Homo sapiens: one gene and its partner. The protein of the gene in region 2 interacts with the protein of the main gene of each other region in a pairwise test. Each region holds a gene or a part of one and is shown on either strand. Other genes may lie near its edges.

Region 1 (9,183 bases), on a different chromosome or scaffold from region 2:
ACACACACCACAGTCAGCAGAATGCCTTTCCTGATACATATACACACATATCTACACATGCACATGTACACACACAGATTTTCTGAGACACATACTCTGAATTCTTCTGGAAGAGAAGAACTGGCTTGAGAGGGCACAGGAAGCATCCAGGAATGGAAACTAGTATTTCCCAGACTCAAAAGACAGGACCAGTCATTGCTGCAGAAACAAGCAGGGTGACTACTGGTCTCTTGGGTCCAGATCACCATTTTCTTTGGCTGATTGGCTTCCTGCTCATTCCTGTTCCCAATTTTATCCTACGACTTTATCTCCAATGAGGCCCTTTTTCAACTGCCATGACCTAGATTTGTCTTCCTTGGCCCTGAGCATAGCAGGAATACTCATTGGCCATAGGCTCAGCCAGCTCAGTACCCATTGGCTGCTCTGCACTAAGCCTCTGTCTCCATTGGCCACACATTCAAGGCATCCTCATTCATTCTTATTGCTGTGGGTTCAGGCGGCCGTTTTCATTGGCTGCTCTGTCCTGAAGCTCGATCTCTATGGTTGCCACGAGAGGTAGTATCTCCACTGACAGTGAATCCAATGGATGAATGGGCTTTGTTCTCTCCGTGCCACACTGGTAGGTGTCTCCCAACATGTGCCCCCTCCTCAGCCTGCATTAGGGTGGGGGGGCATTGGGGGTGCCTGAAGAAGATCCAACAGCCTCGAGAAGCCTCTGGTTCTGGCGAAGGTGCCTCCTCCTTTCGTGTTCCCCTGTGACTTCACACACCAGCTGGGCAGGGAAGGCCCCAGGAAGCCCCTTCAGCCAACCTGGGGGAAGAGAGACAGAGGCTCCAATGAGGTGGGGGCAGGGAGCAGGTGAGGAGGCAAAGGGGGCCTCGTGGGGTCTCAGGCCTTCAGGGTCATTGTAGGTGTGGGAATTCATGGACAAGCCTGGAGCATCGGTAGAAAGGGCATCAGAAGTGGAGGTGACAGCAGCTCGGAGAGAGTCTGGGCTGCTCTTCCGTCAAGCCCTGCAGTGGCTGCTCATGTCTCTTGGAGTAAGAGGTGGAGTCCTTGCAGAGACCTGTCAGGTCCTGCGTGATCCCATCCCTGCCACTTCTATGACCTCATTTGCTTCTCCCCCTTTCTCTCTCCTGCTAGTCACACTGGCCTCCTTACAGTTCCTCAGTCACACACCAGCCGCAGGGCCTTTGCACTGCCTGCTGCCTCCAGCTGGGACACTCTTCCCCCAGACACCATGGGCCTAAATTAGCTCCATCAAGCTTCATGTTGCCTTCTCAGTGAGGTCCACCTCGGCCTCCCTATTGAAAATTTCAGTCTGCCCAACCCTGGAACTCCTGACCTTCTTTGCTCTGCTCACTTTTTTTTTTTTCCATAACACTCATAACCTTCACATGTACTTTATAATTTACTTATCTATTTTGCTCATTCTTTATCGTCTGCCTCCTCTGCTAGAACGTAGCTCCAGCAAGGAAGGAAGTGTGATATATTTGATTCACAGTCCCTAGAACAGCGAGTGGCACTTTGTAGGTGCTTAATAAATATTTATTGAATGAATAAATGAAACACGGCCAGGCGCAGTGGCTCACGCCTGTAATCCCAGCACTTTGGGAGCCTGAGGCAGGAGGATCACTTGAGCTCGGGAGTTCAAGACCAGCCTGAGCAACATAGTGAGACCCCCCACCTCCATTAAAAAAAAAAAAGAATAGAAATAAGGCCTGGCACCAGAGGCTCATGCCTGTAATCCCAGCACTTTGGGAGGTGAAAGGGGACGGATCACCTGAGGTTAGTTCGAGACCAGCCTGGCCAACATGGTGAAACCCCATCTCTACTAAAAATACAAAAATTAGCCAGACGTGGTGGTGGGCACCTGTAATCTCAGCTACTTGGGAGGTTGAGGCAGGAGAATCCCTTGAACCCAGGAGGCAGAGGTTGCAGTGAGCCGAGCTCACACCACTGCACTCTAGCCTGGCTGACAGAATGAGACTCTGTCTCAAAAAATAATAATAATAAATACAAAATAAATAAATGAAAGACTTTCTCACCTTCAGGGGTCTTGTGCAGGTGTTTGGGGGCAGCCCTGGACTCCAGACTCCGTCCTTCAGTCTTGGCAGGTGCAGACGACTCTGAACACAGTTCCTGGGAACAGTCTGGTTGGGGGTGGGTGACATTAAAGTGATTCTGTTTAGCTTCTCCCCCATATTCCTCTAAGACTCGCTTTTTCTTCCCTCATCCCCTCTAGGGGGATACTCACCACAGTCCTCATAGATGGTGTCTGGGGAGCAGGGAAGGGGGCCTGGGGTTGGGAAGGCTCCCAGCCAGCGCTGCATGTCTGATCTGGTGGGGATATTGGGAAGTGTCACAGTTGGCCCAAAAGATCCTCTGGGGCTGAGGCAGGAGCCACAGAAGAGAGAGACTGGGGAAGTGGGGGAGGTCTGAGAGGTCAGATAAGTGTCCCAAGGTTGTTTTCTGAGGGAAACACAACTCACAGGGAAGAAGCTTGGAGTAGTCGGTGGGTGGGGCGGCCCTGGTGGTTGCTGAGAAGGGAGAGGCGGAAGGTAGGGGGTCCAGATGGATCCGGAACCTGCTGGGCCTGGACCAGGGAGCGATGGGCATAGTCCAGAACCTGTAACCGCTGCCCACTGCCCAGGGATGAGGTCGTTCAGAAGGACAGCAGGGGTCCCGCTGGACCCCTCCTGCCCACTCCAGCCTGGGCTCCTTCCTTCCCTAGGACTCACCTCTTAGGCTGAGTGATGAGCAGCAGGTCGCTAAAGAGCAGCAGGCAAAGAGGGGTGAAGCGGGGGCGCGAGGCAAAGAGCACGCCCCCCCTCCGGCACCCTAACTCAGTCAGCTCTCCCTGGAATTCCAGGCGCCGTGACCAGGAGACCAGGGGCAGGGCCTGCGAGGAAGCGGAGGCAGAGGAGGTTCTAGCGTGGCAGCAGCAACATGGGGCAGGGCAAGATGGGGAGCCTGGGCAGCGATGTACCTTGACTTTGTGGAAGCGCAGCCTTTGGGTGAGCCGGATCAGCTCTTCAGTCTGCTTCATGCGCCCCACCTCAGCGCTGCAACGCTCGATGATCTAGGTAAGGGGAGCTGTGTCACCACCCCAGCGGCCAGCCCCCTGCTCCCTACCATTTCTCTCTACCACCTTGTCACCTCCCCCTGCTTCAGCTTCCCCACTGCCCACCTTGCTGACAGCACCCAGGGCCTTCTGGGCATTCTCCTGACGGCTGGACCCCTCTTCTGTCTGGCGCAGGATATTCTGGGGACAAGGAGGAAGGGTGACTGGGCCCCCTGCTCTGTGGCCCTGGGATTCAGAGGGGCCACAGCTCAGAGGACCCTGTCTGTTTCAGCCAGTTTCAACAAGGCTGACAGACCTCATCACTCACCATCTGCAGAACCCTGAGCAAGTCCTGTTACCTCTCTGAGCCTCAGCTTCCCTATCTGTAAAATGGGGCTAATACCCACCTAGCATATCAATAGCATTGTTTTGAGGATTCAAGAAGGCAATATATGTAAAGTGCTTAGCATAGTTCTTGGCACATATTAAATGTTGAAAAGAAGGTTCTTATTTTTTTTTCTTCCGGAGTCTGGCTCTGTCACCCAGGCTGGAGTGCAGGGGTGCGATCTCGGCTCACTGCAACCTCTGCCTCCCGGGTTCAAGTGATTCTCCTGCCTCAGCCTCCCAAGTAGCTGGGATTACAGACGTGTGCCACCACGCCCGACTAATTTTTTTGTATTTTTAGTAGAAGCGGGGTTTCACCATGTTGGCCAGGCTGGTCTTGAACTCCTGACCTCAGATGATCCACCCGCCTCGGCCTCCCAAAGTGCTGGGATTACAGGCATGAGCCACCGTGCCTGCCCCGAAGGTTCCTATTATTTTAATAATTATTAACCAAAACTGTTAGTGCAGGCAATATAGCAGAGTAGCTAAGAGTGCTTAGATTACAATTTTGTCTCCATCAATTATTTCTGTATGACCTGAGGCAAGTTATGTGACCTGTGCCTTAGCTTTCTCATGTCTAAAGTAGGACAAGTAATAGTTCCTACCCTCACATAGTTGCAGGTAAGGTTACACAGGTGTATAGCACTTAGAACCATTCCTAGAAAGCTTAATAGCTGTTGAGCTATTTTGATTAGTATCATTATTATTATTTTGTTGTCTACAATGGGGATAGATAAAGCTGAATAAGATCATAAAGACACTGATAATCTAGTTGGGAACTCTTCACATAAAGATCCCCTCATTCACTGGGCTCAGTAGCTCACACCTATAATGCTAGAGCTTTGAGAAGCTGAGATAGGAGGATTGCTTGAGGCCGGGAGTTCAAGACCAGCCTGGCCAACATAGTGAGACCCTGTCTCTATAAAAATAAAAATTAATAAATAGCCGGGCATGGTGGCATTGTAGTCCCAGCTACTCTAGAGGCTGAGGCACAAGGATCCCTTGAGCCCAGGAATTTGAGGCTGCAGTGAGCCGTGATCGTGCCAGTGCTCTAAAGATCCCCATATTGGGAGACCTGGTTAGAAAGGACTCTCTGCTTTGCTATAGAAGAGAGTGTCTTAGGCCGGGTGCAGTGGCTCACGCCTGTAATGCCAGCACTTTGGGTGACTGAGGCAGGTGGACTACATGAGGTCAGGAGTTCGATAGCAGCCTGGCCAACATGGTGAAACCCCATCTCTACTAATAATACAAAAATTAGCCAGGCATGGTAGTCCACACCTGTAATCCCAGCTACTCAGGAGGCTGAGGCAGGAGAATCGCTTGAACCCGGGAGGCAGAGGTTGCAGTGAGCCGATATTGCGCCACTGTACTCCAGCCTGGGAGTGAGACTCCGTCTCGAAGAAGGAGATGGAGAAGAGGAGGAGGAGGAGGAAGAAAGTGTCTCAAATCTCAAACTTTTTTTTCCCCCGTATCACCCCACTAAGTTGCCTTTTTAAGATAATTTTCCCTAAACATCTCCCTCACCATGAAAGTTTAATTCTACAGATCTACTGGAACTCTGTTTATGCACTAAAGCTTAATGGAGTACAACTGTTGGAATAACTAAGATTATTTTCACCCCCAAAGAACCAATTTTTGCCCCCTTGGGGGTGATACCACCCCAGCTGGGAAGGCATGTGGGTAGAAGAATATAGCCAGAGACAACCTCAAAAACCGCTCACACACTCCCCCTGAGACCCAGCGAGCAGAAGGGACTTGCCTAAGGTCACTCAGAGAGTCAGTGGCAGAGCTAGGTGTGGAACTCATGTCTCCAGCCAGAGGGCCTTTCCCTGCACCTGGACCTAGAGGCAGTCCAGGTAAGGGGAAGAGCACAGGGCCCCTAAGGTAGGACTTGGTGAGTCCTAGGCTGAGAGACCCAGATTCGGAGTTATGATTTGGGGGATTTTATGTTTAAGGTGGAGTAGTGCATGGTGATAGCTGGAGGGCCAAGAAGCCCTCGGGAGAGTTCTCCGATGGGGTTGGTGGGGCAGAAACGGCCGCAGCTGGGACAGGTACCTGCAGCAGCATGCGCAGCCGGGTGATGCGCTGGAAGGGCAGTAGCAGGAAGGACGGCAGCGGGAGCCGCTCACACTTAGGGAGGCTCTGCAGCCGGCGCAGCTCGGCGGAGAAGCGCACGTTGGTGTCCCTGCAGAAGCAGGCATGGCTAGCGGCTGCCTGGAGGCCCTGGTGCCCCAACCTGCTGTGGCCTCGGTCCCATCCCTCTCCCCAGCTTCCTCCCCACCCCTGGGACACTCACATGAGGCGGCTGTAGGTCTCCTCCTGATACTGCTGGTTCCGCACATAATCCACATACACCGAGAAAGGCCCCACAGCGTGGGCATGCACCACATCACACAAGTCGCTGATGTGGGGGGAAGAGCGCACACGGGACAGGAGCGTTGCTAGAAACCTGAAGGAATTGGGGAAGCAAGCAATGGGGCGGGGCAGAGAGCCAGGTCTCCCGGGTTCTTGAGAGAAGGTTTGGGAACTAACTGGGTCCGTAGAAGGAAGGACCTGGGCCCGGGAGAGAGGAAAGGGCGTGCCCAGCAGCCTAAGGGCAGGTTCCCTGGAAGGACGGAAAGCCACTGACCGCTCGCTGACTCCCTGGACTCGCTGCACATTGGAGAAGAGTGTGTGGTGATCACGGGGGGTGAGCGTGTCCCGGAGTGCCTGGCTCAGCACGAAGGTGTCGGTCAGCAGCCGCAGGGAGCGCAGGTAGGAAGCCTCGGACGTCACCACCTCGAAAAGACTCTAGAAAGAAAAGCAGGCAGTCGTGGGAAGCCCAGTTCACCGTGGGAAGCTAGGACCCTGGGCCCTCCTCCCCTATGCCTGACCCATGCAGCCCAACCCCAGCACCCCCCTCCCATCTCCCACCTCCAGCTCCCACCTCCTGCATGCGCCTCTCCTGGGGGCTGAGGGTATCCAGAAGACCGCTGGCTTGCACAGCCGGAAGCTCCTGCCACAGGGTGTTGCGAGGTCCAGGGGGTCGTGGGAAGGTGGGTGCATCTCCAGCATTTGCTGGAGAAGGACTCCCATCCTCACCCACCCCCCACAGCTCCTCTGACAGCACGGCTGCTCGGTAGGTCTGGTACAGAGGTTCTAGAGGGCAAACATAGCACTTCAGGGAAGCCCAGGGCTCCCAAACCCTTCCCCACTGCTTGATGGTCACAGCAGGGACCCTCAGGTCCAGAGGCCCTCACCATCCTGCAGGGGCAGCTCCCAATTCTGCTCCTTCAGCACCTCTAGCCCCTCCTCTTCCCTGTGGAGAAAGAAAGGGAAGGAAGTCCCCAGGGCCACCACTGCTGCCCACCGTAGGGGTGCTTGTTCTCATGCTGGACAGGGCAACCCATGTGCAGGTTGGATGTAGGGACCCTGACGGCTCCCCAAATCAAACCTCAGGCTTTTTTTTTTTTTTTTTTTTTGAAGGGGAAAGGCAAGGTCTCGTTATGTTGCCCAGGCTGGTCTTAAACTCCTGGTCTCAAGCAATCCTGCCACCTTGGCCTCACAAAGTGTCAGGATTACAGGCGTAACCTACTTTGCCCGGCCCAAATTCCAGATCTTTTTATGTGCCTTTTAGAGAGGAGCCCCTGAACTAAGTGGGCCCCATTCTTATGTCAACTATTGCAGACCAGAGATTTCTGAGTCTCCTTGTCAGCCGTCTCACGTAGCAACCATTGTCTGGAACGCCCTATTTGTGTGTCAAGGAAGCTCAACGTGATGGACTGCAAACTCTCACACCTCCCACCAGCACCTGCAGCCCCTTATCTCCCCTGCTGTGGTCATCAGCACCACCACACCCCCATTCGCCCAAGCTAAAAACCACACTAGTAAATGTTTGTTGAATAAATGAATGGACACAGATAACTTCTGATAACAATGGTGAATCTAAGATAATTAACAATCCTGGATAGCATAGAAGAGATGGTCATGATTGCCAAATAGATTTTCGGACAATAATTGCAATAGAAGCTCAAGGTGAGGGAAGGGAGTTAAAATGGTGCACTCACTTACTCTGGACCCGGCTCTTCACAATATCATATCCCCACGATTCCATGAGGTGGTTCCTATGCTTAGCCCCATTTCACAGATGAGGACACTGAGACCCAGGAAGGCTACAGATTTTTTTTTTTTTTGAGATGGAGTTTCTCTCTTGTCGACCAGGCTGGAGTGCAGTGGCACGCTCTTGGCTCCCTGCAACCTCCATCTCCCTGGGTCCAAGCCATTCTCCTGCCTCAGCCTCCCGAGTAGCTGGGATTACAGGCACCCGTCACCATGCCCGGCTAATTTTTGTATTTTTAGTAGAGACAGGGTTTCACCACGTTAGCCAGGCTGATCTTGAACTCCTGACTTCAGGTGATCCTTCTGCCGCGGCCTCCCAGAGTGCTGGGATTACAGATGTAAGCCACCGTGCCCGGCCTTCTATAAGATCACAGAATTGATAAGGGCCAGAGCTGGGATTCGAAACAAGGGCTGCTTATCTCTAGAGCCCTGGCCCTTGTCCCCTCACCTTTGTGGAGGTGGGATTTAGCTGGAGCTGAAGGTTAGTCTGCCCTCAGGTAGAAGCATGGTGGGGAGAGAACCAGGGAGTAGGGGTGGGGGTGTTCAGTACCTCCCCTCCACAGTTGCTGGAGGAGTATTCTGAGGAGCTTCATCAGGACTGTCCCCTGGAGAGAGAAGCCAGAGTGAAGAGAAAAAAAAACTCCAGGATCCCCAGCCAGGACTCCCGACTCCAGCCCCAGCAGGGATGGTTACTATAAAAACTGCAACTCTCTTCAGCACCAGAGCAGCAGCTGGTGGGGAAGCAAAGAGCCCAGTGCCTGTTGGGGATTGTAGTTTGCTGGGCTTTAGTTCCCCCCTGCCTCTCTCCTGTCCCCTCACAGCCCAGAGGTCCACTCCCCCAGGCCCTGCACCTGTTTGGATTCCATCTTCAGAAAGCAGATCAAGATCTGGCTGTGGGGGGTCCCCGAAAATGGTGGCATCCTGCCTGACACGAGTTGGTTTGGGAGGCTTGAGGAGTGGCAGGAGTTTGCGCTCAGCAGTGGAGCGGTAGGATGTGAGGACAACGGCAGGGTGACCGATGCTTGGAGGGTGGGGGCGGGAGCGAGAGGTCCGCAGCGGGGAGGCCCGACGGGGGACCCTGGGGACCTCCTCATAGCCCCCCACAGGCACCCATCTGAGCTCCAGGCCAGGCCGGGTGGTGTGGCAGACACAGGGGCAGCAGGGAGGGCAGGCCAGGCCAGCATCTGTGGGAGACAGGTAGCCTAAGGAGAAAGCCCTTGGGGCCCAGCTCCACCCCCGCCCAGACCATCTCCATCTTTAACCTGCCCAGCAACTGCAATATCAAGGTCCAGGCATCTATAGATCTCCTCCACCCTGACTCCCTTCAAATCCCGACATACAGAAACCAGATATCCCAAACATTAACTCCATTTTTGAAAAGGTAGCCCCTGAAAGTTGTTAGCACTGAAAACGGAGAAGATGGGTGGATTGAGGTCACCCAGCGCCCCCCACCCGCCACACTCACCTGGAGCACCGTTCTCCTGGGACCCACTCCCGGTGAGGGGAGCTTCTCTCTCCCCATTCACATCTGCTCTCGCTTGGAGACCTGGCTCCGGGGCATCTGCATCCTGAGCCCGGCCTTCAGCACCCCCTTCAAACCTGCCAGCCAGCCTCCGCACAGTGCCAGGAGCTGAGGC
Region 2 (9,183 bases):
CTATTTGTATTTATTGGATGTTTTTTGGGGAGAATCACAGCATGTACCAATTACTACTTTTGAAAACTTAGAGTTATACCTATACATGTTGATTCCCATGGAACATTTGCTGTTCATGCAGGCTTAGTTTAGGGAGGAGTTTGTATTCTGCGAGGGAGTTGGAAAGAGACAATAAGGATAAACATTTCTGAGATTCTGACCTTACCAAATTGCCCTAATAGTTCAGCAGACTTAGATCTGCCTTAGAAACCTGAGTGATCTGAATAAACTTCAACTTTCTCTGGTAAATTAATTTGCAATCCTGACATGCCTGACTGTTTTAGCTAACGAGGTACATGACCATCTCTCCTGGGCCAAGTTTTGCATAATGAAAAAATAACTCAAAGACAGCTCTCTGCATCTTTAAACATTTCATAGGATCTCATTTTTGTATCCGCAGGACTTTTGAGTGACACAGAGCAAACTCTGCTTTTACAAAAAGACCACTTTAATAGGTTTCATAGTGAAGCATGTTGAAGCCAGCTGATAACTCCAGTTACACATTCCATCAGAGATTTACAAGATTCTAGGCAGTAGGGAATGAGCTATACAATGTGATAAGTTTAAAAGCCTCTTTGTACATGACTTGTAGAATATCTAGATTGAAAAACAAACAAACGAAAAAGGTCCAGAGTGGAAAATAAAGCTGGTGTGGCAAATAATTTACAGCATCCCATTATAATAACATTTTATCTATCATTATAATAACATTTTATCTATCAAACAACACTGTGTGTCCTGATACTGATTTCTTACTAATAACTTGTATTTTAAAGGACTCAGCTCTTAAGGTATTGCCATGATGCTTTGGGTGACTCTGAAGTATTTTATTGAGGAAAATGATAGAATGCCTTCCAAGCTTAAATAATTTTGGAAAAACATCTGTTCTTTTTTCACACTTACATAAAGAAAACTAGAAAAAAATTGGCTTGAGTAGTAGAAAGTGTACCTTTCTTAGGGAAAAAAGAAGTACATTGTATGCAAAATGAATAAATCTTATGTTGTTTGAATGGTTGTACAAGGTAGCTCCACAAAGAGTTAAGAAAACCTGCCAAACCAAAGAAGACTTGTTTGCCTTTCAATGTATTTCACTATGAATAATTTGATTACACGGACTTACTGGCAACAAGTGTTTGTGTCTTTGTATTTCATCTTTACTACATCTTAAATGTAGCCATCTTTCTTAAACATACATATAGATTATTGTGAGTTTCCAGTTAAAATGAAACTATCTAAATAGACACATTAATTTCCAGTTTACGTTCATGCTAGTTTTTGATTCTCTTTTTTTTAGATGTAGGTAACTGCCCCGCTAATGTTCTGTTCATTTATCTGATATATGCAAATATATCTGTTTAGTTTTTACTTACTAAGGTTGCCTTCTGAGGATTATAATTTTTTTTAGTTCTGGTTTCTTGGTAAATTTGGTCATTTAAAAATAGTATAAAATGTAAATTAACTTAATAACTTGAATCATTTTAACATTTTTGGCTTGGAATTTTTCCTTTAATGTGGGAATTGGAGGGAAGGTTCTGTCAGATTCCAGCACTGAGCCAGGACACTCCTGCTATAACTATGAGGTAGGAGGAGGGTTTTTATTGGTCTCTTTCACAATCTGTATAGATACAATACTTATGTGAAGGAAAGAACTGATGTAGCAAATTGGAATCTGTATTCCACTGCTACCAAATAACTCCTTGAGAATGTAAAACTACTAAACTATATTTGGAAATAAACTGAGCAAATAAACCCTTAAAATGAAAAACAAAACCTAAGCATTCATTATGTGAGATCAGATAGCCTGTTGATTGCCTATATAGAATAGTTCTTATGGACTTAAGTAATTTTATTTCATGAAGTTTCATTCCTGAAATTGATTCTATATCATGTTAGAACATTCAGTCTCTGAAATTTTGATCTAAACCCCTTATCTTTTGAAAATATTCCCAAATCTTTTCCATTTTCATGTCACAGGGTTTCAGTCATTTCAGTTGGATTATATAGACTTGAGTTCCTAAAAGTGGTTAGTGTCTTTGTATTTTTGTAAGCTGTTGCTTTCACTCCATGTTCTATTTTGTTTCCTTTCTTTTTCCTTTGTTGTTGTTGTTGAGACAGAGTCTCACTCTGTCACCCAGGATGGAGTGCAGTGGCACGATCTTGGCTCACTGTAACCTCCGCCTCCAGGGTTCAAGCAACTCTCCCATCGCAGCCTCCTGAGTGGCTGGGATTACAGGCACGTGCCACCAATGCCTGGCTATTTTTTTTTTTTTTTTTTTTTTTTAGTAGAGATGGGGTTTCGCCATTTTGGCCAGGCTGATCTTGAACTCCTGAACTCAGGTTATCAGCCCACCTGGGCCTCCAAAAGTGCTGAGATTACAGATGTGAGCCACCACACCTGGCCCCTGTTTCACTTTTTCATTGCGAAGTACTTTGGAGGAGTTGAGGATAAAAATATTTATTTATATTTATTTATTTATTTATTTATTTATTTATTTATTTATTTATTGAGACGGAGTCTCGCTCTATCGCCCAGGCTGGAGTGCAGTGGTGCCATCTCAGCTCACTGCAAGCTCTGCCTCCCGGGTTCACACCATTCTCTTGCCTCAGCCTCCTGAGTAGCTGGGACTACAGGCGCCAGCCACCACGCCCGGCTAATTTTTTTGTATTTTCAGTAGAGACGGGGTTTCACAGTGTTACCAGGATGGTCTTGATCTCCTGACCTCATGATCCGCCTGCCTTGGCCTCCCAAAATGCTGGGATTACAGGTGTGAGCCACCGCACCCGGCCTATTTTTATTTTTAAGGAGGCATTCATTTTAAGAGATTATTTAATCTTTTAAACTTTATACTGATATATCTCAAGAAAAACAAAATGTTCCTAAAGACTGTATATTAAATTCTGTTGGAAGTTGAGAGAATTCTAGAATTCTAGTGTAATCATAGATGGCATAATATTAAAACATAGATGGCTTGAAAGGTAGAAATTTAATTCCAAAAGTGCCCTACATCTCAGTTCAATACTTCTATGGGATTGCCTGTGACATGCAAAATATTGTAAGGCATTAGAGGTAAGAGCTACATAGGTCCTACCATCCAGGAGTGAACAAGGGGTTAACAATACTGCACAAGTAAATATTCTAGAAAGTAGATAGAGTAAGGTAAGTCACAGGGGAGATAACTAAGAGAGTTGGCAAAATATAATCAAGCCTGTTTGGTTTTATGGTGTCAGAAACTCATGTGGAAGTAGAAGGGTTTAAAGTAAGTATTTGAAGAAGGGCTATGATTTAGGTGAGTGGAAATGAGAGGAAAGAGGGAGGGATAGAGATAGGGATTGGGGAAATACATTCCAAGCCATTAGCAAAGTGACAGCACAGAAAAAGAAAGCAGGGCCCCTCTGGGAATTGGGAGCAACTAGTGGCTGTGCTAAAGTACTGTAGTGGGAACTGTGGAAAAGCAAGTTTAGGCCAGTGAGAATGAGAATCTTGGTTTCTATGATTTGATAAAGTAGGCGAGAGGGCATTCTTTTGGGTTTTAGAATAGCTAAGGCTCATTTGTGTGTGTGTGTGTGTGTGTGTGTTTTACACCAAGGACTAATAGTTACCCACTAATGCAGTTCTGAATGCCAGAATATCAGTTCAGCTTTCTTACCCCCACCATCACAGTCCTGTTAATAGTCGTAACTATATAACTAGGTAAGAGTAGTTAATTGAAGCAAACAGCAGATGATTAGAAGTCTTAAAGAAACCAAGTTCCAAGTTCCTTTTTCCACTCACTTCCAAATGTTCTCATTGAAAGTAATCTAACTTGATGCCACAGACTAGCACTGCAGATTCCTCACATACCTAGGCAAACTGAACATCAATGAGAATTGAACCTGAAGTTGTTTTTCGAAAGTCATCTTTCTTGTTTTTGTGGAGGAGTTAAATTCCAACCTAATGTTATTCTAATAGAGTTTCTAATTTAAGGTTGATTGTTAATTTGACATTACAGTTTATGCAGTAGAAATGAAGTCCCGGGAGCATTTATAAAAATGTATGAGACCAGCGTGCTAAAACCCTATTAGGGTATTTTGAAGCACAGTCAAGTTGCATGCCCCCAAAATGGGTCTTATAATGAAGATACTGGTAAGCTCTTAAATAGAATGGCTCTACTACCTGCCTGAGAATATAAATTACCAGCTTCCTTGCTCTACTGGGTCACATTTCCAAGCTCCTGCTACTTGTTATCTGGATTCCTAATGGGAAAGGGTAGAAGAACACAGATGATGTTTCTATTGTTGCTGTTTGCAGGTTATAAGGCATATGGACACATTTTTTTTTCTGTCTGCCTAGCAATGGAGGGTCTCCATGGTATCCTAGCAACCATATTCGAACACCAGGCTGCTGCTCTTTCTGCCATCTCTACCATAGGTGCTGCAGCCCATCCCAAGAAACTGGGTCTGTTGCTAGCATTCCAGATCCTCTGACTTGAACCTTTCAAGCTCAGAGAACGCAAGACAATGTGATAAATAAGCACATGCTGAAAGCAGCATTTACCAGTATGCTCAACAACTTATTATGCAATCACATCCTTGGCATTTTGTATCCTAATCTGAATTGTTGAGCTGGTACTGTTTGCCACCCCTTCCCCGACAGCCCTTGTCTGCTTCCTCACACTCAGTTCTGACACCGGTTCTGCTTCCCTCTCACCATCTTCTGTAACGACTGTGTTCCTCAGCACTTCCTTAAAATTTATTTTCTGAGAAGTTCAGTATGTGCAACCTGTTTGAACTCTCTAAGGATAATTTTGTTTGTAAGAGCAGAGGAATTTTCTCCCTCCAAAACTGTCCTGTAAATATAAACAATAGCACAAAAACTTCAGCTACACAAAACAGATGTTTAACACAATGTGGAACTAATAGTACACTCTCAAAACTGTCTTATTTCTGAATGAATTTTATAAGCATACTACTCTCCAGCTTTTTTCATTGCTTATAAAATTCATATAAGCATTCCTTCTGGAGGCTCTAGGGGAGACTCCATATCTTGTCTTTTTCAGCTTCTAGAGGCTGCCTATATTTTAAGCGTGAAATTTATAAGCAATGAAAAAAGCTGGAGAGTAGAGTGAGAAGAAGAAATGCATATCGAGGGAACAAGAAAGGGCGAAACGAGATGGGTATTGGTAAAACTATGCCATATTTGCAAGGAAGTTGGAAAATAGTGATAGGCTTTGTGTGCAAGTAAATAGGTGACAAGACTGGAAAAGAGCTTGCAAGTAAGATAGTACTTTATGGATGAAGACTGCCATAGAGAAGAGACACCCAAATTAGAGTATATCGAAGGCTTGCCTTCTTAGGGAGCTATACTGAAGATAGTTTCCCATTAGACCAGTGCTTGTTTTGAATGCATTGTATTGTCCCTTTGAAATGCTCCTTAATTTGACATCATTGAGGACTTGGTGGTGTTTGTGCAGCCAACAGTGCAGAGGACAAGAATAAGGGCAACAACTCAGTGCATCCTGCTTCTGAATGAAAGCATCAAGAATTACACTGCTCATCATCATCAGATTGGGTAACATTTATGGAGCACTAACTCTGTGCCAGGCACTGCTCCTGTGCTTTATATAGATTGTCTCTTTCATTGATTGAATGATTGATTGATTGATTGAGACAGGTTCTTTCTGTCTTATTGCCCAGGCTGGAGTGCAGTGACACAGCCATAGCTCACTGCAGCTTCAAACTCCTGGGCTCAAGTGATCCTCTTGCCTCAGCCTCCAGAGTAGCCAAGATTATAGGCACATAGCACCACACCTGGATAATTTTTAATTTTTTTCTGTAGAGACAGGGTCTCAGTTGCACAGGCTGGTCTTGAACTTCTGGCCTCAAATGATTCTCCAGCATCTGGGCCTCCAAAGAAAGTGCTGGGAATACATATGTAAGCCACCGCACCCCACCTGATCATCTTTTTTTTAGGACAAAAACAACCCTATGAGGAAGATTCTGGATTATCCCAATTTCACAGCATGAGAAAAAGAACTCTGGGGCGCAGAGAAGTGAAGCAACTTGCCCACAGTCACACTAGGTTGAGCCTGAATTTGAGCTCCAGAGCTTTTCTCCTTAGCCACTAGGCTCTCTTACTGCCCAAAGGGTCATGGGGATTAGGTAGCTGCAGGAAAACTTTATGAATAACATATAGGTCATTCTCTGGGGTGTATCTGTTCACCAATAATTAAATAGGAAGCAGAAGGACTCTGGGACTAGTGGAAGAAATAATGTAGGACGGCGGTTCCCAAACTTTCCTGCGCATTAGAATCACATGGGGAACATAAAAATCCAATTCCTAGATTGTACCACAAACCAATTAAAATCAGAATGTCCGGGTGTTGGAAGCTACATATCAGTAATTTTTGATGATTCTCCATGTAACTTTAACGTGTAGCAAAATTTGATAACCACTCTAATAGGAAGATGACAAGAGGAGTGTGTGTGTTTGTTGTGTGTGTACATTTGTGTGTGATATTAAACAAAAGACCAGGATAAAGTGTTCATCTAAAGAGTTGAATGTCTCTATTGGCTAAAACCTTTAAGCACTAGGGGCCTGCGAAAGCATAGCTGGATTTTTTTTTTTGCCAAATTGTACGTGTAGACAAATTGTACGTGTAGTTTAGTTGATGCCTTCTTGTTTATTCTCCTAAACAAGTGATCATTTCCCTACCTAGCCCATTGGTTCTCAAACATAGCTGTATGTTACAATCACCTAGGGAGCTTTAAAACATACATTTGCTGGGCACCACCTCCAGAGCCTATGATTTAATTGCTCTGGGGTAGACCTGAGGTATAGGTATATTATTTTTACTCCCAAAGTGATTATAATATTCAGCCAGGGTTGAGAAACCTCTGCTATGACCCATTCATTGTTGATTGTTACAGACTACTTGAATTCCTATTCTTTGGGGAAGCACCTTTCTTGTTTCTTTTTGAGCAACCCAAGTCCCTGGCTTGCAGTGGAGCCAGGCAGCTTCAGCTCCCCAATCTCCCTAGCATCTGAACCTATCAGCATCACTTTAATCTCTGGGGTTACCTGTTAAGGACCTGGGGCACACAAAAGTGGCAGCAGCTCTGTTCAGTGGGTAAGTTTGTTTCCCCTTTCCTGCCAGCCAGGGTTCCTGGCCACTTTCAAATGTGACACACATTAGGATCAGCTTTCATCCCAAGTTTTTTGTTTGTTTGTTTTGTTTTTAAATTCTTGCTGAGGGCAGCTGCCTCTGTGGCCAGATAGTTTCTTTGGGTCCCAGCTCCTGCTATCCAATGCTAAGTTGAAGGTGAAACAATGATGAGCGCCTCTTGGAAGAGCAGTCCTGGGCTTGTAGCGTCTCTCTTGGTATGTGATGTCTCTGCAGCCAGCTACAGTTTTTTTTTTTTTTCCTACAGATATTTTATCCTTTTAAGGCAAACAGCGTGAGCTCAGGCTGAGGAGTACTTTCCGAGGAGACTTCAGAGAAAGCAGAACTAGCACATCAACCTTTCAGCCCCCTTTCCAGGAGGCTTGGTTTAAGTGGACAGATCTGGGCATTGCTGGCAGTTGAGAGGTCGGAGACGACACCTGCAATAAAAGATCTTGGTGTGTCCCTCATGAAGACTTCCAGGGGAAATGAGAATTCCTAAACCCTGTGGTCAGACCTCACTGCTGCCCCTATTGCCAGCTCTGTGTGTCTTTCCTGCCCTCTGTCCCCTTAGATCCTTGTTACAAAGTCCTCAAGGTGTTGCTAATGGTCTCTGCTAGGAGCCTATTTACATTTGTAATTTAATCATTACCTTCTCAGGTGAGGATCAGCCAATATAGCACTTTATATAAGCAATGAAAATAGCTAATATAATTGCAAATACTTTTTGATAAAAATAATCTTAGAATCGGAGTCAGCAAGGAGCTTTTCTGTCTTTTCCCCACTCCTAAAATATGAAAATGTATTCAGCTGACAGATAGTATGTTAAAACAGAATAGATGTAATAAGGCTACCCGGAGGATTGGGGACATTAATTATGCAGGGAAGTTAATCATAAGTAAAGTAAACACTTTCATTATGAATCCAGCTTCATGGAGTGCATTTGGTTATTGCGCGTAATTGGGGAGGGATAAGAGGAATTAGAAACAATGAAAAACATGACCAAAAACATGTGTTTAATTATTATGACTTAGCAGTTAGAAGCAGAATGATAGGCAGAAGTTGGTGGTAGGACACTGGGAAAATATCTGTGTCTTTGCATTCTTTTATTCCAACCTATGAAAGGATGGGAGTTCATATAAAAAGAAGAAATTAGTGACAATTTACTACCAAGATATACTACTTTCACCTGCATCAAAAATAAAATAATGTTAATTACTTTTGCCTTTCTAAAGATCATAAATGTAAATTAAACTTCAGATTTGCTTTAAGATAGATGTAATTTAATTCACTTCTACATAGAGGTGGAGAGAAAATAATGTAAGCTATTTACTTATGCTTTGGCTGGGCATAAAACATGAGTAAATACCTTACATTATTTTTATGTGATTATAATATGCATCAAAAAACAGATCTAATGTTATTGACCTTCTAATATTTAGTGTCATTTTCTCACTTTTAGACCCTACCTACTGTTAAGAAGTAACATTGTACTTCTTTGAACATGAGGTAATTATAGTATCATCCAGTCAGTTTAATTTGGTTAATTGGATTGAATGTCAATGATGACAAATACACTCTAGTTAAGCAGAATACTTGGACTATTTTCAGAAACAATTGTATTATGGTAATATCAAGCTTTCACCAGATCTTGGCCAAGGAATAAGGAGATAATGTGAGGAAAAAACATATCTTCTGGATATACTGTACATCATCTTAATGGTCCAGTTTTATCAGTAAATTATGGTTTTGACAATGCTTCTAAGTTTGGACTGAAAAGAAAGAAGAAAATATGGCCAGGACAAAAAAGAAAAATGCAAAATCTAAGTTTTGCTCCTCTGGAGTAATTGCTACAGATGGAAAATAGGGTGGGTTGGTCATAAGCTACCATGCCTACAGGTGGCTGGCAAACATGCTGTAAAAGGAAGCACAGCTCCACACTTGTATCTTCCTAATACCTACGTTACCTAATTCACTGGTGACTAAGTAACACGTTTTGTATTAA

Evidence for each region. The genes of interacting proteins can lie anywhere in the genome.
Region 1: the proteins of PRKG1 (region 2) and ARHGEF15 interact in binary tests that used the Homo sapiens proteins (3 or more experiments, as listed by UniProt).

Annotation. Positions count from the first base shown.
Region 1 is NC_000017.11:8,312,469-8,321,651, reverse strand, and holds part of ARHGEF15 (rho guanine nucleotide exchange factor 15), read right to left. Parts: coding exon 9,012-9,183; intron 8,731-9,011; coding exon 8,398-8,730; intron 8,152-8,397; coding exon 8,097-8,151; intron 7,635-8,096; exon of another isoform or gene 7,499-7,634; intron 6,747-7,498; coding exon 6,688-6,746; intron 6,587-6,687; coding exon 6,375-6,586; intron 6,239-6,374; coding exon 6,078-6,238; intron 5,898-6,077; coding exon 5,745-5,897; intron 5,634-5,744; coding exon 5,504-5,633; intron 3,311-5,503; coding exon of another isoform or gene 3,266-3,310; coding exon 3,191-3,265; intron 3,083-3,190; coding exon 2,990-3,082; intron 2,903-2,989; coding exon 2,742-2,902; intron 2,646-2,741; coding exon 2,493-2,645; intron 2,341-2,492; coding exon 2,258-2,340; intron 2,154-2,257; coding exon 2,049-2,153; intron 811-2,048; coding exon 659-810; 3' UTR 1-658. UniProt on the Homo sapiens protein: Specific GEF for RhoA activation. Does not activate RAC1 or CDC42. Regulates vascular smooth muscle contractility. Negatively regulates excitatory synapse development by suppressing the synapse-promoting activity of EPHB2.
Region 2 is NC_000010.11:51,076,090-51,085,272, forward strand, and holds part of PRKG1 (cGMP-dependent protein kinase 1), read left to right. Parts: intron 1-9,183. UniProt on the Homo sapiens protein: Serine/threonine protein kinase that acts as a key mediator of the nitric oxide (NO)/cGMP signaling pathway. GMP binding activates PRKG1, which phosphorylates serines and threonines on many cellular proteins.